Linked DNA regions of Homo sapiens. The protein of the gene in region 2 purifies or fractionates together with the protein of the main gene of each other region. This does not show direct contact. Each region holds a gene or a part of one and is shown on either strand. Other genes may lie near its edges. The genes, in order: CHFR, C5orf24, PKNOX2 and PBX3.

Region 1 (8,318 bases), on a different chromosome or scaffold from region 2:
ATTGCTTTAAAATAATCAAGTTCTGTCTGGGCGAGGTGGCTCATGGCTGTAATCCCAACGCTTTGGGAGGCCAAGGCAGGTGGATCATTTGATTTGAGGCCAGGAGTTCAAGACCAGCCTGACCAACATGGTAAAACCTCATCTCTACTAAAAATACCAAAAAACTAGCCAGGTGTGGTGGCACACGCCTGAAATCTCAGCTAGTCTGGAGGCTCAGGCAGGAGAATCACTTTAACCTGGAAGATGCAGGTTGTAGTGAGTGAAGATCGCACCACTGCACTCCAGCCTGGGTGACAGAGTAAGACTCCGTCTCAAAAAATAAATATATCAGGCCGGGCACAGTGGCTCACGCCTGTAATCCCAGCACTTTGGGAAGCCGAGGCGGGTGGATCACCTGAGGTCAGGAGTTCAAGACCAGCCTGACGAACATGGAGAAACCCCGTCTCTACTAAAAATACAAAAAGTAGCTGAGCGTGGTAGCACATACTTGTAATCCCAGCTACTCGGGAGGCTGAGGCAGGAGAATTGCTTGAACCCGGGAGGTTGGAGGTTGAGCCAAGAAGGCACCACTGCACTACAGCCTGGGCAATAAGAGCAAAACTCCGTCTCAAAAAAAAAAATACATATATATATATAAAATAAATAAATAAAATAATCAAGTTCTACAACTGTTAGGAACTGAATGTTTGTAACTGAGTGTCTGTACCCCCCTAAAATTCATATATTTAAGTCCTAATCCCCAATGTGACTGTATTTGGAAATGGGGCCTGTGAGCTGATAAATGTTAAATGAGGTCACTAGGTGGGAATCAGATGTCACAGGGCTGGTGCCCTCTTAAGAGGAGGCAGAGAGAGCAAGCAGAGTCCCCCTCTCTGCCATGTGAGGACACAGCAAGAAAGTGGCCACCTGCAAGCCAAGAGAGCCCTCACCAGGAACCCAATCTGCCAACACCTTGATCTTGGACTTCCCAGCCTCCTGAACCATGAAAATAAATTTCTGGCCAGGCACAGTGGCTCACACCTGTAATCCTAGCACTTTGAGAGGCCGAGGCAGACAGATTGCTGGAGCTCAGGAGTTCGAGACCAGCCTGGGCAACACAGTGAAACCCCATCTCTACTAAAATAGAAAAAAATAAGCCAGGTGTGGTGGTACGTGCCTGTAGTCCCAGCTACTCGGGAGGCTGAGGCAGGAGAATCGCTTGAACCTGGAAGAGGGAAGTTGCAGTGAGCCGAGATCATGCCACTGCACTCCAGCCTGGGTGACAGAGCAGGACTCTATCTCAAAAATTAAAAAAATAAAATAAAATAAAAAATAAATTTCTGGCCGGGCGCGATAGCTCACGCCTGTAATCCCAGCACTTTGGGAGGCTGAGGCAGGCAGATCACGAGGTCAGGAGATTGAGACCATCCTGGCTAACATGGTGAAACCCCGTCTCTACTAAAAATACAAAATACCACTGCCAGGCGTGGTGGTGGGCGCCTGTAGTCCCAGCTACTCGGGAGGCTGAGGCAGAAGAATGGCAAGAACCCGGGAGGTGGAGCTTGCAGTGGGCCGAGATCGCGCCACTGCACTCCAGCCTGGGTGATAGAGTGAGACTCTGTCTCAAAAAATATATAAATAAATAAATAAATAAATAAATAAATAAATAAATTTCTGTTGCTTAAGCCACCCAGAATGTAGTATTTTGCTATGGTAGTATGAACAAACTAATACAATAATCTTAAAGTTTTTGCTGGCAACATTATTTATAAATTCACTAAAATCGTTCCTATTAAAAGATAAACTCAACGACATATTTTCTCTCCTTGTCTTAACATGTAATGTCCTACCATGTAATAACATGTATAACATGTTACAATAACAATGGCTAATGCTAAGTGCTAACGCTAAAGTTCCTTCTAAGCAGTCCGTGTATGATCTCATTAACTCCTCAGAGCAAATCTATGAAGTAGGTACATAGGCGCAGAAAGATGTCGTTAGCCCAGAGTAATGTGTTGACAGATTGGAAACCCACATAATTTGTCTCTAGGGCCTCTGCTCTTCACCAAACCTCCTAGTCTATCAAGTAAAGACAAAGGGAAAAATCTTCAAATACTTCCTCTTGTCTTAAAGGGATAATTTTGATATGTTATGATGATATCTAAATACTTTCAAAGTTGTAAAATAAACTTTGACTTGATACTGGAATGTAAGACTACCAAAACACCCCAAAAAACAAAACCAGGTCAGACACAGTGGTTCACACCTGTAATCCCAGCACTTTCGGAGGCCGAAGCAGGTGAATCACTTTAGTTCAGTTGTTCAAGACCAGCCTGGGCAATATGGCGAAAGCTCATCTCTACTAAAAATACAAAAATTAGCCAGGCATGGTGGCGCACGCCTGTAGTCCCAGCTACTCCGAGGCTGAGGCGGGAGAATCACTTGAACCGGGAGGCAGAGGGTGCAGTGAGCTGAGATCACACCACTGCACCCCAGTCTGGGCCACAGAGCAAGACTCTTATCTCAAAAAAACAAACAAAAAAACAAAAAAAACCAGGTGCAAGCACATTATAAGGGGTGAAATTAACCAAAAAAAAAAAAAAAATTGCTTCCAAACAGCAAATATTTCCCATCCTCGCTCCTTTTTAGAGTATAATGTCGGAGCTAATTCATTAATTTTCAGACAAACTAAACATTTTTGTTGACAGGACCAGCGCATTTCTCTCCCCATACAAAGGCTTCAGAGGAAATCAAACAACCAGATGGTCACTTGGGAGACTGGAGGCAGTGAATGTGGAGGCTGAGGGAACTTTCTCTCACCCGTTGTATGACTTTGTTCAAGTTTTTAGCTTTCCAGGTTTATTAAATAAATAAATATTCTAGGGGCTGGGACTTGAGATCTTTTTTAATATAAGCACTACAGCTATAAATTTCCCTCTGAGTACTGCCTTGGCTGCATCCTAAATACCTTTTGGTGTATTCTATTTTTGTTTCATTTGTCTCAAAACAAGGTCCCCGTTGTAAAGACTTATTTGACCCACCGGTTGCTTTAAGAGTGTGGTGTTTCATGTCCACATATCTGTGAATTTTCCACTTTTCCTTCTATTATTTTTAATTTCGTTCCATTACAGTCAGAAAAGATACTCTGTACGGCAACGAACGTGACAATATTGCATTCTGGAGAGTATATGAACACAACTAACTTATACAGTTGTAACGAAGGCTAAATGATGTGCGTGAATCATGCGCAAGAATCGGTGGGCAGAACACCGAATAAATACCAGTTCTTACATGACATTTCACTCCACGGAAAAATCTGGAGCGCACACTGCACCGCCGCCCGTGTGGCCTGCCCGCAACCCGGTGGCTCTGCCCGGCCCCGGCCCCCGGCCCCGGCCTCAGCCCCGCACCTCGTCTCCGCCCGATGGTCCACTCCCGCTTCCTCAGGAGGACGTGCGGCTCGCCCTCCTCCGCGCCCAGACGCAGGAGCCGTCCCCAGGGCTGCGGCGGCGGCGACTGCTTGCCTTCCTCGGGCCGCTCCATCGGGATTCACATCTGCGGAGACCCCGGAAACGCCCATGGAGACTCCCGACCCCAGAGGCCGAGACTCGGCGCCCGCCCCACCCCGCGGGCCCCGGCCCGGCCGCCCGCGCCCACGCAGCCCCGCAGCCCGGCCTGGACGCCGGCGGGCGCCCCCTCCCACGGCCGCAACCAGGTCCCCCTTCGCCGCCCGCCGCAGCCCCCTCGCCAGCCGCGCTTACCCCCGCCCCGCGCCGAACCCGGAACCGGCTGCGCCGCCGCCGCTGTCAAGAGACATTGCGGCTCCCTCAGCTGATCCGCGGGGCGGGGCCAGAGGCCTCTGCGCCCCGCGATTGGCTGGCGGCGGCGCTCACCAAGAGCGGCAGCTAAAGCGGAGCCGGGAGTGGCCCGCGAGAGTAGGCGCGTGGAGGGCGCTCGGCCATCTTTGATCCTGACCAGGCGACTTCGTCGCCTGCGGATCACGGAAGTGGCTGCGGTCGGCGCCATGTTATGTTGGGGCAGAAGGGACGGGGAACTTCCGGATTGGAAGCCCCAAGGATTCTGAGAGCCCCGCTAATCTGGGGATGACTCCTAGGAGTAGAAGACGGTCCATCTTAGTTGTCACGAGGTAGTGCACGTGGGGACCCTTTCGGGTACAGTTGCACACAGTGGATCACACAGATCCGAAGTCTGAGGCACAGGGCGCGGTCCGCGAGTGGGAGCGGCTGCTTGTGGGCAGGGTGGACGCGGGGCCACGTCTTGGCCGGCGTTTTGCGGGGTCTTCCTGTTCTGAACGCGCGTAACTTTTGCCTCAGTATCTCACTTCTTGGAATCCGGCGGCGTTCACGTGTGTGCTCCAGAGAAGGGCGCCAGAGGGTATTCCCTGAAAGTGAAAGGTCGGCGAAAGAGGAGTAAAGACGGCGAGACGCGTCCACGCAGGGGGAGTCTGTGCGGTTTGGAGGAACGCGCCAATGTCTGCACTCATGAGGAGCCCCCAAGGGCGGTTTTAAGAGGGTGAAGCAGGACCGGGCGCAGTGACTTACGCCTGTAATCTAAGTGCTTTGGAAGGCCTAGGCAGGAGGATCTCGAGCCCAGGAGTTCGAGATTAGCCTGAGACCTCATCGCTACCAAAATAAATAAAGTAGGCATCCATTTGTGTAAAACAAACCATATATACACACATATATACATATATAAACATTTGTATATATAGGTATAGGCATAGTTATCTATACCTTGTAAACCAAAAATAAAATTGTAAGCCTCCCCAACCAACTGAATGAACTGAGTCTCTCAACGCCAAAGTTAATCTGAAAAACCAGTTCAGTCCCTGATGGGAAGCAGGGTTTGGATATGTCCCATTATACTGTCCTCCCTTTGGAATTCAGGTATAACTGACCAGCGTCGACGTTAAAACAGACAACTTAAGGCTGACCAAACGGTCTGTAGCATTAAGATACATCACATGACAAATAGCAGGCCCTGGAAGAAAACGAAGTATTTTACCCTGACATGTATTTATTTAACATAGTTTTACGTAGCCCTGCAAAACTGTCTCCTGGGGGAAATCTACTTTGTAGAGAATCTCCTTCCTTTTCCACATCTTTTCCTGATCCAGGAGAGAATGTAAGACTCTGGCACCTTTTTAACTCTGATAAGAAAAGTTTACCATCTATTCTCTCTGAAGCCTGCTGCCTGGAGCGGCATCTGCATTAGAATGGCCAGAGTGGTGGTGCTCAAGCCTGTAATCCTAGCACTTTGGGAGGCCGAGGTGGGTGGATCGCTTGAGCCCAGGAATTCAGACCATCCTGGGCAACATGGGGAGACCCCGTCTTAGCTGGACATGATGACAGCACATGCCTATAGTCCCAGCTATTCAGGAGGCTGAGGTGGGCAGATTCCTTGAGCCCGGGAGGACAAGGCTGCGGTAAACCACAGTCTGTGCCACTGCAATCCAGCCTGGGCAACAGAGACCCTGTCAAAAAAAAAATAACAAAATAGAAACTTTGTCTCCCTTAGCTTAACCCAGACAATCCTTTCTATTGATTCCAGGTCTTTAGATAATAACAACTCTTTCAACCAAGTGCCAATCAGAAAATCTTTGAATCCATCTATGAACTTTCTCCCTAAAAGGTGTAAAACCGGCTGGGCGCAGTGGCTCACGTCTGTAATCCCAGCAGTTTGGGAGGCTGAGGCAGGTGGATCATGTCAGGCCTCTGAACCTAAGCTAAGCCATCGCATCCCCTGTGACCTGCATGTATATATATGCCTAGATGGCCTGAAGTAACTGAAGAATCACAAAAGAAGTGAAAATGGCCTGTTCCTGCCTTAGCTGATGACATTCCACTACAAAAGAAGTGAAAATGGCCGGTCCTTGCCTTAACTGATGACATTACCTTGTGAAATTCCTTCTCCTGGCTCATCCTGGCTCAAAAAGCTCCCTCATTGAGCACCTTGTGACCCCCACCCCTGCCCACCAGAGAACAACCCCCCTTTGACTGTAATTTTCGTTTACCTACTTAAATCTTATAAAACGGCCCCACTACCCCTATCTGCCCTTTGCTGACTCTCTTTTCGGACTCAGCCCGCCTACACCCAGGTGAGTAAAAAACTTTATTGCTCACACAAAGCCTGTTTGATCGTCTCTTCACATGGACGCGAGTGAAATTTGGTGCCGTGACTCGGATCGGGAGACCTCCCTTGGGAGATCAATCCCCTGTCCTACTCTTTGCTCCGTGAGAAAGATCCACCTACGACCTCAGGTCCTCAGACCAACCAGCCCAAGGAACATCTCACCAATTTTAAATCGGGTAATGGCCTCTTTTCACTCTCTTCTCCCACCTCTCTCACTATCCTTCAACCTCTTTCTCCTTTCAATCTTGGTGCCACACTTTAATCTCTCCCTACTCTTAATTTCAGTTCCTTTCCTTTTCTGGTAGAGACAAAGGAGACGCGTTTTATCCATGAACCCAAAATTCCGGCGCCGGTCATGGACTCGGGAAGACAGTCTTCCCTTGGTGTTTAATCGCGCAGGGACGCCTGCCTGATTATTCACCCACGTTTCAGAGGTGTCTGACCATGCAGGGACGCCTGCCTTGGTCCTTCACCCTTAGTGGCAAGTAATGCTTTTTTGGGGGGCAAGAACCCCCCAACCCCTTCTCTCCGTGTCTCTACCCCTTCTTCACTTTCCTGGGTGGCAAGCACCCCCCACCCCCTTCTCTCCATGTCTCTACCCTCTCTTTTCTCTGGGCTTGCCTCCTTCACTATGGGCAAACTTCCACCCTCCATTCCTCCCTCTTCTCCATTAGCCTGTGTTCTCAAAAACTTAAAACCTCTTCAACTCACACCTGACCTAAAACCTAAACGCCTTGTTTTCTTCTGCAACACCGCTTGGCCCCAATACAAACTTGACAATGGCTCTAAATAGCCAGAAAACGGCACTTTCAACTTCTCCATTCTACAAGACCTAAATAATTTTTGTCAAAAAATAGGCAAATGATCTGAGGTGCTTTACATCCAGGCATTTTTCACACTTCGTTCCCTCCCTAGTCTCTGTTCCCAATGCGATTCCTCCCAAATCCTCCTTCTCTCCCTCCTGCCTGTTCCCTCAGTCCCAACCCCAAGCGTCGCTGAGTCTTTCCAGTCTTCCTTTTCTACAGACCCATCTGACCTCTCCCCTCCTCCCCAGGCTGCTCGTCGCCAGGCCAAGCTAAGTCCCAATTCTTCCTCAGCCTCCGCTCCTCCACCCTATAATCTTTCTGTCACCTCCCCTCCTCACACCCGGTCCGGCTTACAGTTTAGTTCCTTGACTAGCTCTTCCCCACCTGCCCAACAATTTCCTCTTAGAGAGGTGGCTGGAGCTGAAGGCATAGTCAGGGTACATGTGCCTTTTTCTCTATCAGACCTCTCTCAGATCAGTCAACATTTAGGCTCTTTCTCATCAGACCCCACTAAACATATACAGGAATTCCGATATCTAACTTTGTCCTACAAGTTAACCTGGAGTGACCTAAATGTCATCCTGACTTCTACCCTCTCCCCAGATGAACGGGAAAGAGTTTTTTCTCTAGCCCAATCTCACGCTGATAACCACCGGCTTCACGAGCCATACCTCCAGGAAGGCATCAGAGCAGTTCCCCGAGAGGATCCCCAATGGAACTATCAGGCAGATTCCCCAGGTACAGCTAGGCAAGATTACATGATTTCCTGCCTAGTTGAAGGGCTTAAAAAGGCAGCTTACAAACCTGTTAATTATGACAAGCTTAAAGAAACTACCCAAGGTAAAGACGAAAACCAAGCCCAGTTCATGGCCTGCTTAGCAGCAACACTCAGACACTTTACCGCCCTAGACCCAGAAGGGCCAGAAGGCCGCCTTATTCTTAATATGCATTTTATCATCCAATCCACTCCTGACATTAGGAAAAAACTTCAAAAATTAGAATCTGGCCCTCAAACCCCACAATAGGAATGAATCAACCTTGCCTTCAAGGTGTACAATAATAGAGAGGAGGCAGCCAGACGGCAACGCATTTCTGAGTTACAATTACTTGCCTCTGCTGTAAGACAAAACCCAGCCACACCTCCAGCACACAAGAAATTCAAAATGCCTAAGCCGCACACACCTAAGCCACAGCAGTCAAGCATTCTTACAAGACTTCCTCCATCAGGATCTTGCTTCAAGTGCCAGAAATCTGGCCACTGAGCCAAGGAATGCCCATAGCCTGGGATTCCTCCCAAGCCGTGTCCCATCTGTGCAGGGACCCACTGGAAATCAGACTGCCCAGCTCGCCTGGCAGCCACCCCTAGAGCCCCTAAAGCTC
Region 2 (5,601 bases):
AACCAAAAGGATCAATAATGTTTAAATTTAAATATTAGCCTTTTAGTAGAACTATTTGTCTGATGCATCTTTTTTTATTTCTAGCTGTATTCTGATTTATCTTTTTTTAAGTTTGTTTGTCGTGCAGGCTGGAGTGCGGTGGCATGATCTCGGCTTGCTGCAACCTCTGCTTCCCGGGTTCAACCAATTCTGTGCCTTAGCCTCCCAAGTAGCTGGGATTACAGGCAACTGCCACCACGCTCAGCTAATTTTTGTATTTTTAGTAGAGATGGGGTTTCACCATCTTGGCCAGGCTGGTCTCAAACTCCTGACCTCGTGATCCACCCGCCTTGGCCTCCCAAAGTGCTGCGATTACAAGGGTGAGCCACCACGCCTGGCCAGAGACCAGGAGTTTGAGACCAGCCTGGGCAACATAGGGTACCCCATCTCTACAAAAATTAAAAAATTAAGGCGTGGTGGCGGGCGCCTGTAATCCAGGCTACTCAGGAGGCTGAGGCAGGAGAATGGCGTGAACCTGGGAGGCGGAGTTTGCAGTGAGCGGAGATCGCGCCACTGCACTCCAGCCTAGGAGACAGAGTGAGACTCTGTCTCCAAAAAAAATAAAAATAAAAATAAAAAAATAAAAAATTAGCTGGGCATGGTGGCAGGTACCTGTAGTCCCAACTACTCGGGAGGCTGAGGTGGGAAGGTAGGAGGACTGCTTGAGCCGAGAAGGTTAAGGCTGCTGTGAGCTATGATCACGCCACCGAACTCCAGCCTGGGTGACAGAGTGAGACCCTGTCTTAAAAAAGAAAAAAAAAAAAGCAAAATTCTAAGAAAAACACAAGATCTACAGTCATGAAAAAGGTTTACCATTTACCACTTAAGTACTTGAAAAGTACCACACTAAAAAACATAGTAAACATAGCTGGTTTTAAAGTAATGACTTTATTAATAAATATACATCCATATGATGATGTAGATACAAATCATGAACACTACTCCATTCCCATACACATAATTGCACACGAGTAGCTCAAGTTCATGGACATAAAAACATACACAGTATCTATTCAGACTTTTTACAGCAGAGGACAGCGTGCTTATTATCAGTTAATTGGTAATTATTTTCTCCAAAATTACCTGTGGAAAAAAGAAATTCTGAAAACTTAAAAGAATCAAAGTGATCTGATTACTTTAAATCACACACTTGATTTACTATATAGCATTAAATTTTCCAAAAATTAAATACATTACATGTGAGAGCACAGATTTATATATTTGGAGGAGGGGGGAAAAAAGGAAAGATTCAGATACATCCTAGAGTTTAACAGCATACAGTTAAGCTGTAATAAAAACAAAAATAGAATAGCATCAAAATTTTTTATGTCCAAGGAAAAAAATCTTTTGAAAAACTGTTTTGAATTCTTTATATTCCTATAAAGGGACCATAAAATTTTACTGCATATAGAGACAATGACCGACAGAGTAGCAGTTATCAATAACCCCTGAATTGTTCTTTTAAAGCTTCTTAGAATATAAAGGAGAAATTTACTTTTTTTTTTCTTTAGCTCACACACTATGGTTATTTTTACACTGAATGGGTCAACTTTAACCTAATAAATGGACCCACATATATATTTTTTTCTCCTCAACTCAAAGAAACTCTATTCTTAGTTCATGAAAATAGACATGTAAATTCACACAAACATCAGTTTGGAATCAATATTACTTTGACAGATGTTTCTTTAAAAAGTAAATAAAAAATATAAAGAATTTTTAGTCTAATTAAAACATTGATTTTTTAAAATGTCCCTAAATATTAAAAATTAAACCAGATACTACTCATTTTCTTCCAATACATTGTGCCAATATATTTTTTAATATCCAATGCAAAACTCTAAAGATAGTATCAAAATCACCCTAAATACTACTTATGCAAGGTTATATCTGTCAAAAAATGAAAATTTCATCTGTTATTAGCTCATTTGCTAATATAATAAATAAGGCATGTTAAAGTACTTTTTAAAGAAAAAAGTAATGCAGACTTACTTGAATTGCAGATCATTTTCTGACCAACAGTTTAAATATAGAATAATGAAACCTATTTTGTGAAGAACAGAATTACACTGTATAAAATTAGCAATTTACCTTTCAAGAAACAATCATACAGTGGGGGAGAAAAGGCCAGTTTTCCCCAACTGATTATATTAAAGTATAGGCAACTGTTTAACATGCTATTTCAGTGTTTATCATAACAAGAGACAGTGTTAACAAAATATGCACAATGTAGTCTTTAGTTTATATAGCAGTAAAAATACTTTAAATTTTAAGACTTCATTCATGTTATCACTTAGATGTCTTTCTCTTCAGCATGGCACCGGTAAACTGTTCACAGGGAGAAAAGTAAGTGGAATCAGGAGATGCTCACCAGTGCATAGATATAATACTCCAGGTAACCGCTCAGATGAACAGTAAATTCGGCTTTCTAAATGATGTTATCCATTTACAACTGTAGCCATTTGCCCCTCCCATTTTTTTTTCCTGGGACATAGCTGCTGATAATAAACACTGTTATGAACATGCCTCCTTTAGTTGATCTCACCATTTCATAAACATGTATACAAAATTCATTATACAATAATACACCTGTTTTATCTTCTGACACACAGCACAGCACCAGTAAGTAGATGTGCTGGAGGGTAGAGGAAGAGGAATGAATGTACGAAAGGCAGGGGAGAAAGGGAAGGGTATGTATAACAAAATAAGGAAGGAAAATAAACTGAAAGGGAAATAAATGTCAAATGGACTTACTATAAAACACAATAATCAAATCTTTGACAATGGTGTGCATTATTCTATGGTAGAACATTAAACAAATGTCTTTAGAAACTGGCTTGAAAAAGATTTCTAAGCAGCCAACTGCTGAACATCATCTTGAGAAACAGCTAAATGACAGATACATGTACAGAGTAGGTAACGAACATATGAATAAAGAGGCAAGCATTTGTGTGTGTCAGAAGTTATACTGTTCTGAGTAAATTATTAAAAATCTTGTATTTTAAGCTTTTGCAAGAAAAAGCTCTTGTAGCAATTTAGCTGCCAGAATGTTATAACTGATTATGTAACCATCCAACATCGTTCTCTATGGTTTGTGCAAAGCTAATATTGTTGAGGTCACTGTCTTAGACGCCAGTGCACATAGTCCCCACATACAATGCAACACCTCTTACTGTAAAGAGCAGCATAAAGTCCAGCTCAATTGTGTCAGGCATCACTGGAACACCTGAAGGCTTGCTGCTTTTTTCCTGATAAAAAAGGTATGAAACATGACATCCATTTGCAATCAGAGTTTGCATTAATAGCAAGCCCAAAAAACACAACATGTGCTCTTTTAAAATTTTAATTATTTTAAAAGTTTTTGGGTCCTGCAATTCTACATTTTAATCTCAAAGGCATTTAAAATCCCAAATACAAACATTGTAACTTTAAAGTTAAGTGGAATTTTTTCAAGTCTGAAGTTTATAATATTTTATTTAGAACAAACTCAATAAATAAAATGTGTAACAAGAAGTATTACTTTCAGAAAGGAAAGAAGAAAGATTTCCCTCTGTCCCTACTATACATATCTACCTAATACTTTTTTTCCTTTCTATCTTGCTTCTAAAGCAAACATCATTGGGGGAAAAAAAATCTTTTGGATGAGATGGTCTCACTGGACCCACAATAAGATTTTTAATTAAACTAACCAACATATTTTTTACATGTTTCATGCATAGATGGATTCCTATATGCTTCTTAATATTTGGGTTCTGATGGTCGGGAAACTGCATTCTGTTTATACCAGTTTTACAGTCTACCATTCAATTTGTGTCCTTTGGTAGATATCAACCTGAAAACACAGTAAGTGCTAATGCAATGGGACAATTTCTGAGAAAAACTAAAAACGTTCCAAATAAATGAGCAACATCAATAAATGGTTTTATTTATTTATTTATTTATTTATTTATTTATTTATTTATTTGAGACGGAGTCTTACTCTGTCACCCAGGCTGGAGTGCAGTGGCACAATCTTGGCTCACTGCAACCTCCGCCTCCTGGATTTAAGCAATTCTCCTGCCTCAGCCTCCCCAGTAGCTTGGATTACAGGCGCCCGCCACCACGCCTGGCTAATTTTTATATTTTTAGTAGAGATGGGGTTTCACCATGTTGGCCAGGCTAGTCTTGAACTGCTGACCTCAAGTGATCCGCCTGCCTCGGCCTCCCAAAGTGCTGGGTGTGAGCCACCACACCCAGCCAATAAATGTTTTTAAACATAATACTTTAAAACTTTCTATATGAAAGGCAAAATATAGTGACTATAGCTACATGCAAACCTAGAGAATGCTTCTTTTTCTATTATATGAAATATGCTATCCTCAGAATGCACTATATTTCACCAAAAATGTAATGTGCAGTTTTTATAAAATAGTTTAAATTTTCTGTAAATATGAATTGTTTGTAGTGTTTGGTATATATGCTCTTAGGCAATTAAAAAATACACAACCTATCACTGCTCAAAGGCAAACACTGAAGAATTATTTCAGGTATAATGGTTAAATCAATTAATGCCATGTAGATCAATAAATTACAAGCTGCTTAAACCTAAAACATTAAAAATAAGTTTTTTAACATTTGAAGTGGATGTAAATGCCAAAGCATACAAATATGTGTCCCATCTTGTGAAAATAAATGTTACAAAAACTCACACAGCCATTACCTCAAGTAATCCTGATTCATTAGTTTGCTTTTTTGCTCCATCAGTTAAAAATACGTTAGTGTCTTTATTATACTGTAGGCTTACTTCACAAACTAATAGGTATAATGGTTTCAGTTGTTTATCACATAAAGCATCTATTTAGAACAGCCCCAAAGTAGTAATGAAACATGAGACATGACCATAACTCTAAAGGAAAAGGAAAAATGATTTAGTTAGGTGTTACACTTGAACCTATGTACAAATACAATGCCGCTGCTCATGCCCTGAGTGCATCTGTCAGCATATGGCAGTTTTTGAGCAAAAGCAGGAAAAAAACCAAACAGGAAAACAAATTTGGAAAGCCCAGGCCATAAAATTATGTATATCAAAATAAAACCAAGAAGCTTTGGGATTATTCACAATCTTCCTTCTAAACCTGGCCCTCTTTTCCTGCCTCATTCACTCATTGGGTGGTTTGACTTCACTGCTAGTTTCCTCTACCCCATGAACTGCTCTGCCATGCATCATAGGGTAAGGAAAAGCAGCAGTGCCACAGCCATAACCAAGATCGGCAAGACGGGATAGAGCTTTAATGCTACCTGGAGGTCTGCCTGGGCTGACTTTGTATCCCGCAGCTTTAGTTGTCCCCAAAGGTCTGCCTGGACTTGTCTTAAATCCAGCTGCTTTGGTGGTTCCCAGGGGTCTGCCTGTGCTGGTCCGGTATCCTGCTGATTTGGTGGTTCCCGAAGGCCGGCCACGCTTACCAGATCGGTTGAGATTCTTCTTTTTCTTTAGTTCATCTTTTATTTCTATGCTTCTGCCACTTGTAGTCTGCAAGTGTGTTTCATTTAATGGGTCTTGCCTCTGACAAACCATTGGTTTGT
Region 3 (8,333 bases), on a different chromosome or scaffold from region 2:
GGGGGGTGGGAGCGGGGGGGAGGAGGGCATTGAGGGGAGGAAGATTTGAGATTTCCTCCTCTTAATATTAAACCCACCATCCCAGCCCCCTGCACCCCTGGCAGGGAGAGCCAGACAGCCCTTACAGGACACGGAAGACGCACGACCCACGACCCACGAGTGGCCTCGGCGGCCCGGGGCGCGGCGACTGCCGCCGCGGAGCTCCAAGGCTGTTGTTTTGTAGGCTTGGAATTCGTGAGAGCTCTCTCCCGCTGAGAGCCCGAGGGGGGAGGGAGCCGTGACCCCACGGAGACTCCCTGGTCACCGCCTCCCCTTTGTGAGCGGGAAAGGCTTGAAAGCCAAGAGAAAGAGAGGCTGCTCAGAATAAGGGGCAGGGGGTTACCGGAGGGAGATGGGCCCGACCACCGCTCACAGTAAAATGCCTCGTGCGAATTGCACTGAAGTATACCCAACTTGAGACTGGCTGTTTTATGATCCTCTCTGGGAGTTTACTGCTCTCTGCTTTTAAGTCTATAGATTGCTTTAAGTTAATGAAAGTGCTGCTTTCAAAAGGGGCTTTTATTGTGTGGCAGTGGCAAATCCAGTACCTCCCCTTTACTCTTCCAAAATGGGCCTGTTTAAAAAGAGGGAGCTTGCTGGATCCCACATGGCAGAGCTTGGGGGAGGGTGCCATGTGACAATGAGAATTAATAAAAGTTAATGTCCAAGTGATTCTGAAAGACGAGTTTGCTTCTTTTCCAGTCCGGTTTCATCTGTTCATTCTCGTGTTGCCTTTGGGCTTTCACTGAGTCTGCCTTTAAATGTTGCTTGGTGCCTCCCCAGCAGCCTCTCCCAGCATTGCTTTAGGTAGGCCTGACCCCTGTTCAGTTAAACCCAAACTGGATTTCAGGATTTCAGCCCAGCTGCCAATTCAAACTGCAACTAAAATATTTACTTGGGACTGGGGGAGGGGCTTTGCCTCGCGTTTAGTAAGATAAATGTGTTTAAATGCCTGGGAACCTTGAGAAGGAACAAGGCAGGCTGTTTTTCAGTGCTTTTTGCTTTTTCAATCTGTTTGGCACAAAAGGTGAGATGACAAGGTTTTTGACTAGGTCCTAACACAGAAACTGCAGTGGGCTCAGGCTGTGGCTTTGACCGCATGTCATAACCATTTAAACTGTGGTTAGTTGTTCAAAGCTCAAAGCTTCTCCAAGCTGGGTTTCATTAACTCTACACCAGTTGCCTGGAAGTTCAGTAGCAATAAATTGTATAAACACATTTGAAGTAAGTTAGTGATGAAATAAGTAGAATTACTGTCTTGTGAGTGGAGAATCCTGAATTCATGGAGTTCTAGCTTAACTGGAAACATACCTCCTCTCCCTTGGCCTTGAAGTTTATGGGTGCACCAGAGTGTGTGTTAAATTTCTTTCTGCCATGTCCATCTTCAACCTGGGCTGTAACTCATTAGAGACCAAGGCATGCCTAGAAAGCAAAACGGCTGGATTTTAAAGGGGTCTCTATTAGCTTGGTTTAGGAATCAAACCAAACCAATTGACCTGACTTCTTTACCTTCCGTGAATCCAACGTGCAACGTAAACAGCAGCAGAGCAGGGGAAAATTAGATGTTTAAATGTTAGAGGCTTAATAATACTGCGTTGTTAGCAATTGAATTTGTTTTTATTAAAGAAACAACCAATAAAATTTATAGGCTTCCAACATGTTGCAAGATTTCCTTGCTATTTATTTAGCTTCCCCCTCCCTACTTTCTGAAATTCTATCTCTAATCTCAGGCTTTTGTTCCCGATTTATTTAATCTGGAGCACATTTTCTAAATTAGTTCGAGGAGGGTGAGAAAGGCTGTTATGAGTTTTCCTTTTTCCTACGCTGTGTGGCACAAGGACTGCGATGCTGTAAGATATATATAAACGTGTGATGCAATTGCTGGAGGTGACGGCATGTGAAGCCAAGTGTCTGGATCAAACAAAACGCAGATCCGAGCATGGAGAGGGTGAAAACGATGCTGCAGAGGAAAAACTGAGGAAGTTCTAATGGAAAATGAAATCATCATGAACCACCGTTAGCCTGAGTCTAGCCAACACACCATGCTTTGTATAAAACACTTCACGTGAGATCCGTGACTTATTGAAGACTGAATTATACTGAGAAGCAGAATTTAGAGGGAGGAGCTCCACGGGCTGGGTTCTATCCAGGCAGCATGGCCAGGATTGTTGCGATGGGGATCTGCTAATTTAATTAAATCTAATACCTGGTGGGAAAGGGAGGAAGGAGGGAGGGAAGTGGTGGGCAGATAATCAAGGTTGGCAGGTCAGCATGCTGAGCTAGTGTTTAGGCTGAAATTTAGTGGCCTGGTCTCTTTTGACTCTGTTATTGCCAGGGCTGCATGACTCCAGTGGGTCATCTAGCTTCTGGGCCTTGGTTTCTTCATCTGTAAAGTGGAATGTATCACACACAGTTCTCACTAGGGTGAGATGATGGGCTTGGATCAAGCACAGGCTGCGCTCTGAGTAAAAAAAATGGGAGATAGAGGCTTCTCAGCAGCAAAGTCACATTCTTCGGTGTGTTTTCTTTCCTCGCCTGGCTCCAGGGCCTTCCCCACAACTCTCAGGAGTTCTTAGGCTATAGTAAAGGGGCTGAATTCCTGCCTTGCATTACATCCTAGAATTTGAAAGGCCTGCTGTGACTCCAAAAACCATCTACACTTTACCAAGAGGGGCAATTTTGGCTGAGTTGGGGGATCCAGCCCGCTTCTTCCAAATGGTGTTACCTGGAATAGCTGTCCTGTATCAGACGAATGCAGAATCTGACTTATCAGAAATGCAGCCCCTTCTCTTTATTCCACTGGGAAGGCAAGGCCTGAGCCCTGACTGGTGTGTGTGTGACATCTGGTCGGCTGAGGGGGTTGGGTGCTGGTCTGCAGCTAGCCACGGCCTGAACCTCTCTTAGCAGTCTCTGCTGGCAGATCAAAGCAGATTCTGGGCCAGAAAGCCCAAGAAGTTACACCCGGCACTTACACAAAACTGTGTGTGCGCTCGTAGACTCCTTCTGTTCCGGTGTCTGATTTGTAAAAGCTAGCTCTGATCCTGGAGACGCGGCTCTGGTGGAATGCTTGTCTTTAATACTCCCTAGTCTTTGGGGATTCCTTGGGGTAATTTTTCCTCCTCATTTCCTTCTCAGCCAATCACAGGCAACATCTTAGTCTCCATTTTGATTGGGGGTGGGAGACAGGGCTGGGGGTTGAGAGAGCAACAGTTGGAGGGCACAGTCTTTCTACCTGAACTCCAGGTTTTCCTCCCGTCCAGAACCCCCAGGAGAGAGGGAGAAGCAAGCCCGGGACAGCTCAGTTCATCTCACGCGGTCAAGCAGAGCTTGAGAAGAGCTTGCTGCAAATGCGTTGTCTTCAAGGGGATCTGCTGTTTGGCTTGGATGCCTCACTGCAGGCCCGGCCTGCCTGGGTTTCTAATTACAAGAAGGACGTTTCTGCTAAGACCTATCTCACTAAAAACACATCCCTGTGTGTAATAAGAAACCCTAAACCAGGCAGGATATTTTAAAACTGAAGCAATGAAGATTAGATTAAGTCTCCACCAAACAGCTTCGTTCTTGTATTATTTTTGGCTGGAATGTGGAGAAAAGCAGCTGGCCCTGGGGCCCAGAGCAGACTCTGGAGAGTTCGGATAGGGCCGGGGTGGGTGGGGTAACTGTTAGTTTTCTGCTTAGTAGGAACGTGGCCAATTTGAGTACGGCTCAGTCAAGGCAGTGGGGGTGCCCAGTGGGGGAGGGGGGAGGCTGGGGTGGAGGAGGAGCCAGATCCAGATGGGCCAGAAAGCGGCCACAGAAGCAGCAGGTCACAGGGCACTGAGGCTTGTAAATCCTCCACCTCATTAGGACGTAGTCTTTTGTGTTCAATTTACATCTCTACTCACATCGCCATCCCAAATCTAGTAGAGAGGGAACAAATAGTTGTTGAGGATTCTTGGAAATAGAACCCAGTAATCGGGCATCATGGGCAGGTGTCCTGCCTTGCTGGGGAGGGGCAGCATGGCATTCACCCATTCCCTTTGTTCTTCCATTCAGCAAATATTTATAGAGCATCTTCTGTGTCCCCGGCACAGTCCTAGGCATTGAGGAGACAGCAGCAAAAACAAAGCCAAGACATTGCCATGAAGCCTGTCCTCAAGGAGCTTGCTTGTGGTGGGGGCGGTGTTGAGTATGGGCTTTATTTAGCATCAGGCAAAACTTCATTTAGAGCCTAGCCCTGCTCTTTACCTGTCATATGGATCTAGACAAGTTGCTTAACATCTTCGATCCAGTTACCCCATTTGTAAATTGGGAAGTAAAAGCACATAGCTCACAGGACTGTTGAGGGGCATCTGTTAAGTCCCTAGCACGGTGTCTGGCACAGAGGAGAGGCTCAGTCATGGTTGACTCTCCTCTGTCATGTTATGTTGGAGCTGATGATCCAGTTGGAGGATTACCCCTTTCCCTTTCCTTTTGCTTCCCCAGAACCTGGCTTGGGCCCTTTTCCAGGTCACTGGCGTCTTCAACCAGCGTTGCACAAATAGCCAGTCAATGCTGTGGCCTGGTGCTGCCTGCTGTGCACAGCCCTGGCAGAGGCTGCAGTAGAAAACAGGTACACAGACCCTGAGGACACTTTGGGGATGAGGGGTGTCTGGGGTTAACAGTAGAGAGGGCACATACAATACACAGACCTGAGAGATGATGGACAGAGAGGTGACGTGGAAAAAGCCACCAACCAGGTGTTAACCACAGGAGACAACAGTGGGGCAGGATGTGGAGTGACCAGGACAGAGTGGAGTCACAGGGCAGACTTCTGGGAGGAAGGGAGCCTCTGCAGAGTGTTAGAGGAGGACTGGCTGAGCGGCTGGCCAGTGGGGGCATGAAACATGAGCCTCCTAGGTCATGGTGCTCTGCGCTGTCCTGGGGACTGCAAGGGAGCAGCCTGGACTAGAAGGAGGAGCTTAGCCCCCTCTACCTATCCCAGGTGGCCAGAAGTGGGCTGTCCCTGCCCCAGGAGCACCAGGTAAGGCCTTGTTGTTTGGGTCCAGTTTCCCTTACACACTGAGGGATTTCCGAGCAGACCTTTCCACGTTGGCTTCTCAATGGGTAGAACTTAGACCAATGAGTTGGTGCATGAGGCAAACAAATCACTTCACTCCTGGTTGCAACATGGCTTTCTTACCTAAGATCCCCTTTTTCCCTAAGCAGAGAGAGCAGAGACTATAGGCCCACATCCAGCCCTCTTCCATCTCAGGAACCATGAAGCTGATTGATATCAGGGTGATCGGGATGGTGGAGAGAAAGGGGGGACTGGTAGTCTGAGCATGGTGGATTCCACTGTGGACTCAGCCACTGACTGACTGTGTGACCTTCAACAAGGGACTTACCTTCTCTGGATGTCAGTGTCCTCACTTATCCAATGAGGAGCTTGAACTTGCTCTCAGAGGTCCCCTTCTACTCAAAGTTCCATGATTCCATATTTCCTCCCAATTGGATTGCTTCGTGGCTTTGTGGCTAGGCAATCATTAAAACCACCGCCACCGCCACAAATCCGAGCAAAGAATCATGATGACATTCAACAGACTGCAGGGGCTTGGCCCCTGTGGTATAGAGTCTTAAGGACAGTGGGGGCCTAGGGGTTGGTTCTGACCCTTCTGATGGCCTGCCTGGGACAAATGGATGTTCCTAGCGATAGGGGATGGCTCCATGAGGCAGCAATTTCAGTCTGAAAACTCACTGGCTTCTTCATAAAAAGCAGCATTTACTTTTCTTGTTGAGACAGCGTGGGGCTAGGGGAAGGAACACAGGCTTTGGAGTCAGATTCTGGGTTCTGACCCTGGTTCTACTACAGCTAAGCAGTGTGCACATCACTTAACCCCTCTGAGCCTCCGTTTTCTTGGCTTTATAGGTGAGGATAATAATACTACCAAGCATATTTAAGACTGCTGTGAAAACTCTGGAAGAAAACATCTGTAAGTGGTTGGCACATGGCAAGCTCATGTTGAATAAATATTAGTCTTCTGTCCTAATAAAGCTCATTCTCACATGCCCTTGTGTGATCCTCTTAGCCTTGTGAAGCAGGTAAAATGGGCATTGTATCATTTTATAGGTAAGAGAAACTGGGGCTCAGAGAGTGGCTAAAGTGGCAGGTCCAGGAAGTGGGTGCAGGTGTGTCTGTGTGTAGCAATGGAGCACATTATTTAGGGTAGCCCAGGCTTATCTTCTATGATGATGGTTCTTCCTTTAGCCTTCTGGAGACAACACAAGCCATTCCTGAGCTCTACCTAGTCCTCTCCCAAGATCTTTCATAAAAGAACCAGCTAAACTCATCTCCTCCATTACTCGAATCTTTGGCAAATGCTGGGAAGAGCTACTGTTGTGAAAACCAAAGTCTAGAAGATCTGTTTTTTACTTCCACAAAGTCTTCAGTCTCAGGTGGGGCTGGGAGGGCCCGCACTAAGAGGCAGAGGTAGATTTAGGAGCAGGGGATATCTCATGGCTATGAGTGGGGGCAGCGAGGCTGCAGTGTGGCCTTGGTCTGCCAGCCCAGGTGTAAGCTGGACCCCTGGGTGGAAAGAATTCCCTCGGGGGCTCGTGCCCGTGGTCATCAGCTCACAATCCAGACAGATGTCAAGCCGACAAACACCAAGGGGAGTTTAGCCCGTTAGTGGTAGCATCTGTCTAATTCCTATTAGGTAAGGGGAGGGCACAGGCTCTCTGGGTTCCAGCGTAGCACAATGGGTCTGTGCTGGAGTAGTGGCAAGTGAGCCCTACCCCAGAGCTTCCCCTCACGGTCCTCAGTCCACAGTGCATTGTTAAGGAATGGATGCTCCTCTGTACCAAGTCCTGTGCTAGGTCTAAATGTGATGTGACCCCTCCTTCTGAGGAGCTGTCCTGCCTTCCTCCCAGGAGACCTTCCTCTGTGGAGATTGTCAGTTCTATCTCCAGGTCCAGGGCAGGGAGACAGACGCCCAGAGAGTCAAGTGTATGCCCCGGGCCCAGGGGCGACAGGTGCTTGTTCTCATTCTCATTTCCTCCCTAAGAATCCACCTGTCAACAGGTGTGGCCTGAACCCACTATTTAATTAGTGCCCATTAGCATGCTGTGGGGAACACTCAGTGGCCTCATCCTCTAGGAGCTACATATTTTTGATGAGGAGACCAAACAAAACGCATGTGAAATTGAGAACAAGCTATATGACCTTGACTCATCTCTTAACTTCTCTGGATTTCAGAATCCTCATTTTATACAATGAGCAGGTTATCCTTGGCTCTCTTCAAGCCCCTTTCAAGTCTATTCTCCTACGACTGTCTGGGCTGTACATGCGAGGTCCATCAGGCACCATGAGTTTGTAGAAGGTGATAGGACACCAGAGAACACCTAGCCCAGCAGTGGGAAGGCTGTCTACCTGTAGGCAGGTGAGTGGGTGGGAAGATATATTGCAGAGGTAGCTGGCCTCATTTATTTGTCTGCAGGGGCCGGGAGAGTGCTTGTTGAGAGGGACCCTGCAGAGTCCCCCAGCTTCCAGGAGGGTCAGGGGGACAGAAATCAGGCAGGAGAGCCTGGCAGAGTGGGAACTCAAGACCGCTGCTCCCCTGTGGCCCAAATAGCGGTGGTGGAAGGAGCTCCTCTCCCGGCCCCTCTCCCACTCTGCCCCCCACCCACCGGCTCTGGGAGGAGACAACTGGTTTCATAGTAGGGCAGCGGTCCCCTGGGGCCCTCTTGACTTGTGAGACAGATTCTGGAGGAAAGCCAAGGAGCTCGAAAGGATTCCTCCAGCCTTCCCTGAAGCCTGTTTCCAAGGAACCTGACTTAGTCTCCGGCACTGGCATAGCACCCCTTGAGAAGTCACCTCCATTCATGAGAGCCTCTTAATGGCAGCAAGATGGGGGACTGCTAACTCCTGCTGACTTCTAGATTGTAGGGGGAGCCTCTTTCCAAGCTGGACGTCTGGTCTCCTGGAATACTTTTCAAAGTCATTTCCACTGGGTTTGAGGAGAAGGAAGGAAGGAAGGAAGGAAGGAAGGAAGGAAGGAAGGAAAGAAGGAAGGAAGGAGGGAGAGCTTCAATCCCAGGCAGTCCTCCACGGAGCACCATTGGCTGCTGGCAGGGGTAATGGGAACTTCCCAGCATTTCTGCTGCACAGAGTCCTGGTTCTGGTGGCCCTGACCTGGCCGTGGTGGAACTGGGCTCTGGGGAGACAGGCTGCCACAGCTAGCTTGCAGGTAAAGGCAGAAGAAGGATGTTCCCTGAGCTCTGTGATTTCTAGGTAGCTGTGCAGGACCTCCAGCGTGAAGGCCACAGACGAGTGGAGG
Region 4 (9,101 bases), on a different chromosome or scaffold from region 2:
TTGGCTTTTTACAAAAGAGATAACGTGCAAATGTGGATCCACTGGCCAAAGCACAAAAAGAGAATCTAATTTACAAGTTATCACTGAAAGCCCCAGAAACAATTTTAAAACACAAAAATTTCTTTTGTCAGCTGCCTCTTGGTTTTTAAATAGCAATAGCCCTACCAAAGCTCTCTCTGCCAGTAATCCCAGACTTTGAAAAGATTTGTTTCTTTTTCGTAACTCACCTTTGACATGTGGTTGACTATACTTTCCTTTCAGAATGGTGTAACTAAGTCCTGTGCAAATAAGCAACTAAAGGACTTATGCTTCCTAATTGAATTCTGCCTGCTGCTAAATGTCTCAACATGAAAAGCAGTTTGCTGGGTTTAGTTCTCAAGCTAGCTAGGCCAAAACTTTAAAAAGGCAAAAATAAATAAATAAATACAAATAATGAGAAGGGGATGAGAAGCGATAAGTATCCATCCCCTCTCCCTAGTAATATAAGGCTGTATAAAGTCGAATCAATCTTAATATTCACAACATAGTCAATACCCCAGTGCTTGGCTGTCAGCAGAAACTGAAGTGGAGCCCTGATAGCAGGAAAACCCTTGGACACTAAGCATCAGAATTTACTGAGAATTGCATACTTTTAAGCTTCTAAACTAAGAATCTTCAAGACTGAATGCTAGATGTCTTATTTTACAGTCAGATAAAAATTATCTACTGCTTTAAATCAAAACGCTTTCTAAAGGTAGCTAAAAATCAACACAAAATAAAAGTTAGTAATTCAAGAAAGGATCACTGAGCATTAAGAAACCAGCCATAATATGTGAATGAAAACCAGGAAAAGTACTCTTTGGCCTCCCTTATTATTTGCTGCTTATTATGGTTTAGCATATATATTTAATAGACAGCAATAACTCATCATCTTTTCTTGATTACTTTTAGGATCAGAATAGTATTGCAAAGCGAAAAACCTGTTTCAAAGAAGGCTGACTCGCCTATCAACCTAACAATTATTTGCACTGTGCTATTTGTACACTCAATTTAAACACAATCACATGTAACCTTCTAAATAGCCTCCCTTGGATAGTGCTATATCCTGGACTTCAACTTTTTCTCCTTTGCCTCAACTTTCAAAATGGCAACTTTAAAATACCATACATCCAACACACACCAAAAAAAAAAAAAAAAAGAAAGAAAAGAACAGGAAAAAAATAAACAGTAGAGCTTGTTTAATGTACTTGTTTGCCACATACAGGGAAGATAATGCCAAATACAAACTAAAACATCCAAATCTCTGCTTCAGTTTGAGCAGTTACCTCACGTCAAGACTGAAAGACCTTCAATTAATAAAGTCTGACAAGAAAGTTAAACTGAAACGAATTGCCAAAAATTTGCCAAATATGTACCTGTAGTTTTCATTCCAGCACTTCTGCAAAACCTATCTTCTTATATATTCCCTGACTTGGACACTTCAAAATTGTTTAACCTGCATCTGTAGACCTTTTTATACTTTATATATTAAGCACAGTTACAAGTGTAATGACTTCAGAATACAAAATAATACAAGTATTAACAGATGTAATACATCGTATGTGTCTACACATCATTACCCTTCCTCGATTCTCTAAAGTAGCCTTCCCACCTAAAACACTAATTCAAGCATGCTACTGGGGTCTGTTCAATTGCATCTATTCTTCTATCCGTGCAGCTGAAGCTTAAGACTGTCTAAGTAAAACAAAGTTCGGGCGATGCTTCTCCCGGGGACTCGGTCCTGGCATCCAGTCTCCCGTTGCTCCTTTTAAAAACTGACACACAAACAAGGCGAAAGGAGAGGGAAGAGGGCGGCTGGCGCTCCGGGCCCCCTCCCCGCCTGCAGCCAGGGGCGGCCGCCGAGGGACGGCGATCCAGCCCGGTCCGCACCTACACTTCATTTTACACCAGGAGCAGAACTGAGAAATTGACTCCAGATTTATTGCAGTTTTTTCTCAAGATCAGGACGTGGGAAGGAGAGAATGATCAAAGATGGCGGTGCCCAAAAGCAGCAGCTCTCAACTGGAGAGTCGAAGGAGTAGCTCCGACCCCCACCTCGGGGGTCTCCAGGCCCACTGCGGGGCGCAGCGTCTTACCTGTTTTCTCTTTGATCTCACACAGGACGCTGAAGAGCGCTGGTTTCATTCTGTGACAGTTCAGGGCATGTTTCCTAAAAAACAAATAACGAAACACAAAGGTATTAGCATCACCTATGGAATAATATGGCGCCTTCCTTTAAGTTAGACCCAAGATTTAATTCCAGCCCCCCATTCTGGAAGGCCCTTTTGAACCGTGGGAAGTCAACAAAAACTCCAGTTGACTAGTTCCCGACAGCCAGCAAGCCCCGGCGGCGAAAGCTGCAGCCGGAACAAGGCGGACCCATCTGCCCGGCAGGCAGCAGCCTCGGCCACTGCAGACGCGACGCGAACCCGCGCGGGGAGCCTCGCCCCGGGGGCAGGCGAAGGCGACCCGGGGGAGGGGACGGGTGCGGAGGGGCTCCCGCGTCCGCTCCTGTGCAGAGGAGGCCGGCCGACTGCGGCCAGCGGGAGGGTGACAGCTCGGCAAAGTTTGCAAGGCGGCCCTCCCTCTCCGAGAACTTGGCCGTCCGCACCCGGACCCGCCAGGGAACCGCCCATCGCCCCGCGCCGGGCCCGGGTGGCCGCCCGCATCGCGAGGTCGTCCCGCGGCCGCGGGAGCCGGCGCCGGGACTCCCCGCCGGAGGAGAAAGTTACACTTCCCGGCGGCGCGGCCCGCACGGGGTCGGGGCGGGAGGTTTAAATCCCTGGGAGGGGGCCGGGCTGCGAGGGGCAGGACGGGGGAAAGGACGCCACGGAATCCGCGCCGCACCGAGTCCGTCCCGAGCCCCCCAGAGCAACTTTGCCGACTCCCGCCCGCTTCGGGGGGCGCGGGCAAGTCCCCCCGAGGCCGGGGCGGGCGGCCGGCTTTCGGAGAAAGTTCCCCGCCGGGGGCTGCGGCCCTAGCCCCGGGCGCCACCCCGGGCCTCGACTCGGCCGCGGGCCCGGCTCCCGCACACACACAAAAGATGCTTAATGAGACGACACCAACTTTGCTTGCGCCTCGTCCAAGCTCTGGTCGGTGATGGTCATGATCTGGTGGAGGATGTCGCCGATGTCCTGCTTCCTGCCGTCGCCGTCCGCCCCTTCGTGGCCGTGCGGGGGAGGCGGCAGGGCCATGCCCCCCTGCACCGAGTGGCCAGCCAGGTTCACCCCGGCCAGAGTCTGCAGCATCCTGGATTGATCGTCCATCCCGCCGCGCGCGGGCGGGAGCGGGCGGCGGCTGAGGCGAAGGCTGAGGCGGCGGCGGCGGCGGCGGCGACGAGGGAGGAGAAGAAAGAGGGGGAGGGGGAGGGGGAGGCGGCCGCGCGCTCCCCGCCCGCGCGGGGAGGGGGCGGCCCGGCCGGCAGGGCCCGCGGCTGAGGCGATGAGGACGGGCGCCCGGCTCCGGCTTCCGCCGCCGCCGAGGCTGAGGAGAAGCGGCGGGCGGAAGCGCCGGGCTCCGCGGCGGTGGCGGAGGCGGAGGCGGCGGCGCCCGCTGCCCTCACGCGGCCGCCGCGCCGCCTCCTCGCCGCCGCGCGCCCCGCCGGGCGGCCCCGCGCAACTTGCTCCTCAGCGCCCGCCGAGTTGCCGGGACGCCCGCCGCCCCCCGCGCCAGCCTGCGCACTGCCCTCCTCGGCCGCCGCCGCCGCCTCGGCCAGGCGGGATCCGAGCCCCGGCGGCCCCGGGGGAGGCAGCGGCGGCGGCGGCGGGCGGCGGCGGAGGAGGAGGCCTGCGGGCGGGCCGCGGGGAGCGAGGGGGGGCGGAGGAGGAAAGTTTGGGAGCGGGCGGGCAGAGGCGGCGGGGGCGCTGAGCCCGGAGGAGGGCCCCGGCGGGCCGCGCGCCGGGCGGACAGCCGATGGATAGGGCGGGAGAAGTCGCCGCCGCCGCCGCCGGAGCCGCGCACCCAGCCAGCAGCCGCCGCGGACCGGGCTGGAAGGCCGCTGGGCCGAGGGATTGACAGGCTGCCAGTGCCACTCACTCACTGCGGCCCCGCGCCGGGGGGAGGGACGGGGGCTGGCAAGGGCGGGGGAGCGCTCCTCAGACCCCGCCCCCGGGGCGGTGCGCGCGCTCATTGGGCTCTGCGCCTCCCGCCGCCGCCGCCGGCACCGCCCCCGGGGCCCGGCCCGTTCCCTCTGGCCTCTGATACTCCGCGCTCCGGAGTGTGCCGCCGGATCCTCGCTCCAACCTCGTCGCGTCCTAGCCCCCCGGGATAGACCGGGCCGGCCCACAAACGGTGTGCCCGCACCCCGACTCCTGCTCCATGCTTTTGGCAGTCATGGGAGCGGGGGGTTGTGTATGGGACAGTGGGCAACTCGCTGCAAAGCCAACCGTGTGCTCCCCCGCCGCGCCCGTGAGCTTCACGCCTCGGACAGCTCCTGGTGCACTTTCCCGCTCTTCCTGTCAGGAGGTGGTGCCCTCTGGGTACCAGGCCGCTCGTCCCGGGCCAATCGCAAAGCGCTTAGAGCCGAATGGGGCGGGACAGAGGCAAGAAAGGGTCGTCCCAATTGGAGCGTTCGAAAGGTTCTGGGCAGAGGCGGGGAAGCGGCGAGTGGGGGCCTCGCCCCGCCTGCGGTCGCCATGGTAACCGAGAGGGCGCAGCTCAGCGTTGGCGCCAGCACCGGGGTCTTGTGCTGTCCCTCAATGGGTGACCAGTTAAGGTGGGAACCTGTGGTCTCACATACTTGAAGTCTGAGCTGAGTGGACCTGACTGCCATAGACTTTCCATTGAAAGGGGAAATGTGTCAGAGAGAAGCGAGTCTGGGAGGAGGGAAAGTGCCTTCAGTCCAGGACTAATTTCAAGGTTTACAACACTTTACACACTCTGCAACTCCTGATAATCCAGGGACTACTCCTTTGGCAGCGTTTGCTATTCGATGCCTCCAGATGTACTGAAGCTGCAAAAACGAGCTCTTCATTACAAAGATACGTTTGTTTAGGAAGAGACTGGATTTCACTTGTCAACTTACCCCATCACCACGAGTCATTTAATGTTGGTAACGCCAGCCACGATTTTTCGTATCTATAACACCCCTTCTTCCATTGAATTCTACCTACAAATAACTGAAGGCTCACATTATTTTGGAATATGGACCTCCGCCTCTTGTGGAGACTTGAGATTGCTCTTAAGCTGATTTCCCAAACAGGGGCTGCAATGTGTGTTCCCGATTTTAGATTCATTGAGCTCACCCTAGATGAGTCCTTTGGTTCGGTGGTTCGGAAAAGTCTCTTTGTTCCTTCTCCAAACTCAGTAAGCTGTCTTACCTGAAACCAAAAATAGGGGTATGAGGATATGAAAAATGGCTCTTACTCTGCAGGGTTTAATGTAGGACAAGCAGTTCTTTAAATGCCAGATGGATTCTTGGAATGAAGCAGGCTACTCGGTTCCAGGTTCTTTCCTTCATATGTTGTGTGTACTTTTAAATACTCCCCACTGCAAAGCTAATAGCTAAGCTTACAGTTAGGCAAGCTAAAATCCTTACAAACTGCACAGCTGCTGAGGAGGGAGTTCCAAAAAATCCACTCTGCTTACTTACCTCCAAAGAAGAACCCCCTTCATGTTCATTAATATTCTCTGCTCTTCTATACCCCATTGATATGTCAAGTTTCCAATTCTTCTTTGAAGCCCCCATTATGGGTTACTTATAATCGTCATTGATTGGGTTTTTTCTTTATTCTTAATTTGTTTTTTAAAGCTGTCACCAAATTCTTAAGCATTTTTGCCAAAAGGCGCAGGAGCAAGCGGTCAACCTTTCATAATTCTCCAACGCTGAGGATGCAAAACCACAGAATTCTAACTGAAAGATGCCTTAAATTCTAAGATTCCTTCCAGCTGTAAAATTCAATAATCCTGTGACTCACTATTAGGACTCCTCTCTGCCCTCCTTCTAGACTCATAATCTTGACTAATCAGTCATGAGGATGAGGCTAATTAGCAATGGGGATTTATGGTTATTTCTAGCCCACTCCGAACAATGAGTTATGTAAGCAAAGCAACATATATAAAAATGTAAATAGGCCGGTGGCTCATGCCTGTAATCTCAGAACTTTGGGAGGCCGAGGCAGGTGGATCACAAGGTCAGGAGTTGAGACCAGCCTGGCCAACATGGTGAAACCCCATCTCTACTAAAAATACAAAAAATTAGCTGGGCTTGGTGGCAGGCGCCTGTAATCCCAGCTACTCAGGAGGCTGAGGCAGGAGAATCACTTGTACCCAGGAGGTGGAGGTTGCGGTGAACTGAGATTGTGCCACTCCCCTCCAGCCTGGGCGACAGAGTGAGACTTCTTTTCAAAAAAAAAAAAAAAAAGTAAATAAAGAAACACTTAAGCAAATAAAGGCAATTGGGAACTATGGGCTGTGTAAACACACTGGAACATAAAAACATAAATTAGAATTAAGAAAACAGTTAGGCAAATGCCAGCAATTAGGAATAAAACAACTTGTTAAATGTCTAACACCCACAGTTATTTTATGGTACACTCCTCTACACCCATGGTCATTCAGTGATGTGGAAACTTGATACCATAATTCTGCCTTAAGTGATTGAATTAGACTGACCTTCTGCTTGGGAGGCTTCTCTTTTTGTTGTTATCAGTATGAGTTGCAGTAGAAGCCTGAGGACCCTAGCAAGGATTCCTTCACAGGCTCATTGACAACTGCCGTTGATTTAAAGCATAACTTTTTTAGACTGGTTTCCAAGCCTCAATATAACTGTCAACTAATTGCAGATGTTCCAGGATCTCTTGGTGCTCGTGCCAGTGTCTCATGTAGAATGTTGCGTGATCTCTGCTCAAGAATCTGAGTCACAAGGTTGATGCCTTCACAGATGACAGAACAGAAGTTCCCTGAGTACCCGAGTCTGTCTTTGCTGTTTCTAAGGTAGTGATTATTAAAATGTCAAGGGAAATGAAATTGACTTTTGGTGAGCAGACATTCATGTAAAGTTAACAGTGACAAAGTGGTGAAAACCAAGCAGATGTTCCTTCATGGCCATCCCTTTCCATGAGTTTATATTAACATCACCATTGCCTCTGTCATCAATAGGGTGACTATCACAGCAGATGCCATTATTGAGCACTTTCTTTGGGGGTACACTATCCTCTGTGTTCCCTTGCTTCATCTTATTACAGTCTCACAACAGCCTGCTTGGGATTGTTATTAAATAAGAAATAGAATGAGAGAGAGTAAGAAATTTCCACAAGACCACAAAGCCAGTAAGTACTAGAGCTTGAATTCAAATATTGATCTATGTGGCTGCAAAGACTACCGTATAAAACACTGTGCAAAAAAGTAATTTAGCCAGGCTGGTGACATGCAACTGTAGTTCCAGCTACTTTAGAGGCAGAAACAGGAGAATCACTTGAGTGCAGTAGTTTGAGGCTGCAGTATGCTATGATCACACTTGTGAATAGCCACTGCACTCTAGCTTGAGCAAAGTAGTGCTACCATTTCTCCTAAAATTTTTTTAAAAGTTATTTAAGATTATGAAGTAAAAATCACAAGACCTTAACAGATAAACTGAAAAATTAATGAAAATAAGTAACTAGGTGCTTAATAAAGAGAGAATAAACAGCTATATTAGAGGAATCCAGGTCTCAAGGCAGGGGAGGAGGGAAATTAAGGACAGTCAGACCATTCTTCAAAGCCACATTGGGTCCCACCTCTCCGAAGCTTTTCTGTGATGCCTGTCTTCTCTGATCTTTGTCTCCTCTAAACTCCCTCAGAAGATTGCAGTGAGATCGCCTCATTACACTCCAGCCTGGGCAACAGAGTGAGACTCTGTCTCATAAATAAATAAATAAATAAATAAATAAATAAATAAACTCCCTCAGTATATGTTGCCTGTAATACATAACCTACTACCATACTAGATAGTCTTGCACTGTTTGTTCTCCATCCACCTCTGTTAGTTTCCTCATCTAGGTCATAAAAATGTCAAGGGCAAGGTGTCGTAAGATGTGACTATAATATGACAGATTTGATTTTTTTTTAAATCATAGACATCTAAGAAAAGGTAACACTCTCCAACTTGTCACTTTGGGGAAACTGACTAAATGCTTCTTTTCAAAATGTATCATTGCTCCATTGCTTTAGGAATGACTATCTATTTGTTTATTTGTTTGTTCATTGATTTGTTTCTCTAGAGAGTGGGACTTGCTCTGTCACCCAGGCTGGAGTACAGTGGCGCGATCATAGCTCACTGTAACTTTGAATTCCTGGGCAATCCTCCTGCCTCAGGGCTCCTGAGTAGCTGAGACTGCAGGTGCACACCACTACACCCAGCTAATTTTTTGTATTTTTTTTGTATGGATGAGGTCTCGCTATGGTGCTCAGGCTGCGTTCAAACTCCTGGCCTCAAGGGATCATCCCACCTCAGCATCTCGAAGTACTGGGATTACAGGCATGAGCCACTGCACCCAGACAGGAATGACTCTTTAGAATTGGTCTTTACAGTTGATAGCACATGTGACATATGACCAACGTTTATCTTCTAAGGATGGATTTGATTGAGTTACCAAAGATTTAGTGGGATAACAGTCCATCCTTCTAAAGTGATGCCTTTAAAAGAGAATATTTATCAGAATGTATAATTTCTAGAAAAATTTGGTAGAATGCTCCCTCTCTTATGTCCCTTCATAGCACCCAGTACGGTGCAGTTTCATACAGAATAGACAGTTGGGGCCGACATGACCAGTTGTTGGCCTGCCATCCATTGGCTTACTTCCTTCTACACCAATAGAAGCCTGATTTTATTCTGAAGACAATGTGCTCAGTCCCAATCAAGGTCTAAAACAAGTATGAGCATCCTGTCCCCTGCCTTCTGAGCCTGTCAGGAGGAGGGGTGACCTTGCTAATTTTTTAAAAAAGGGACAGATAGGCCAGGCGTGCTGGCTCATGCCTGTAATCCCAGCAATTTGGCCACTGCACTCCAGCCTGGGCAAAGAACGAGACCCTGTCTCAGAAAAAGAAAAAAAAGGGGACAGACATGGCTCTTCTCTCCTTCATTTTCCTGGCTCTTTCCATCTTTG

What was found.
Region 1: the proteins of C5orf24 (region 2) and CHFR purify together in Homo sapiens (affinity purification with mass spectrometry; 2 studies listed by BioGRID and IntAct, with this or other methods). This does not show direct contact.
Region 3: the proteins of C5orf24 (region 2) and PKNOX2 purify together in Homo sapiens (affinity purification with mass spectrometry; 2 studies listed by BioGRID and IntAct, with this or other methods). This does not show direct contact.
Region 4: the proteins of C5orf24 (region 2) and PBX3 purify together in Homo sapiens (affinity purification with mass spectrometry; 2 studies listed by BioGRID and IntAct, with this or other methods). This does not show direct contact.

Annotation. Positions count from the first base shown.
Region 1 is NC_000012.12:132,883,807-132,892,124, forward strand, and holds the start of CHFR (E3 ubiquitin-protein ligase CHFR), read right to left. Parts: upstream 3,800-8,318; 5' UTR 3,741-3,799; intron 3,535-3,740; 5' UTR 3,523-3,534; coding exon 3,390-3,522; intron 1-3,389. UniProt on the Homo sapiens protein: E3 ubiquitin-protein ligase that functions in the antephase checkpoint by actively delaying passage into mitosis in response to microtubule poisons.
Region 2 is NC_000005.10:134,855,043-134,860,643, reverse strand, and holds the end of C5orf24 (UPF0461 protein C5orf24), read right to left. Parts: coding exon 5,177-5,601; 3' UTR 3,288-5,176; coding exon of another isoform or gene 3,247-3,287; 3' UTR 909-3,246; downstream 1-908.
Region 3 is NC_000011.10:125,167,192-125,175,524, forward strand, and holds part of PKNOX2 (homeobox protein PKNOX2), read left to right. Parts: intron 1-8,333.
Region 4 is NC_000009.12:125,741,637-125,750,737, reverse strand, and holds the start of PBX3 (pre-B-cell leukemia transcription factor 3), read right to left. Parts: upstream 3,366-9,101; 5' UTR 3,285-3,365; coding exon 3,085-3,284; intron 2,556-3,084; exon of another isoform or gene 2,310-2,555; intron 2,189-2,309; coding exon 2,115-2,188; intron 1-2,114. UniProt on the Homo sapiens protein: Transcriptional activator that binds the sequence 5'-ATCAATCAA-3'.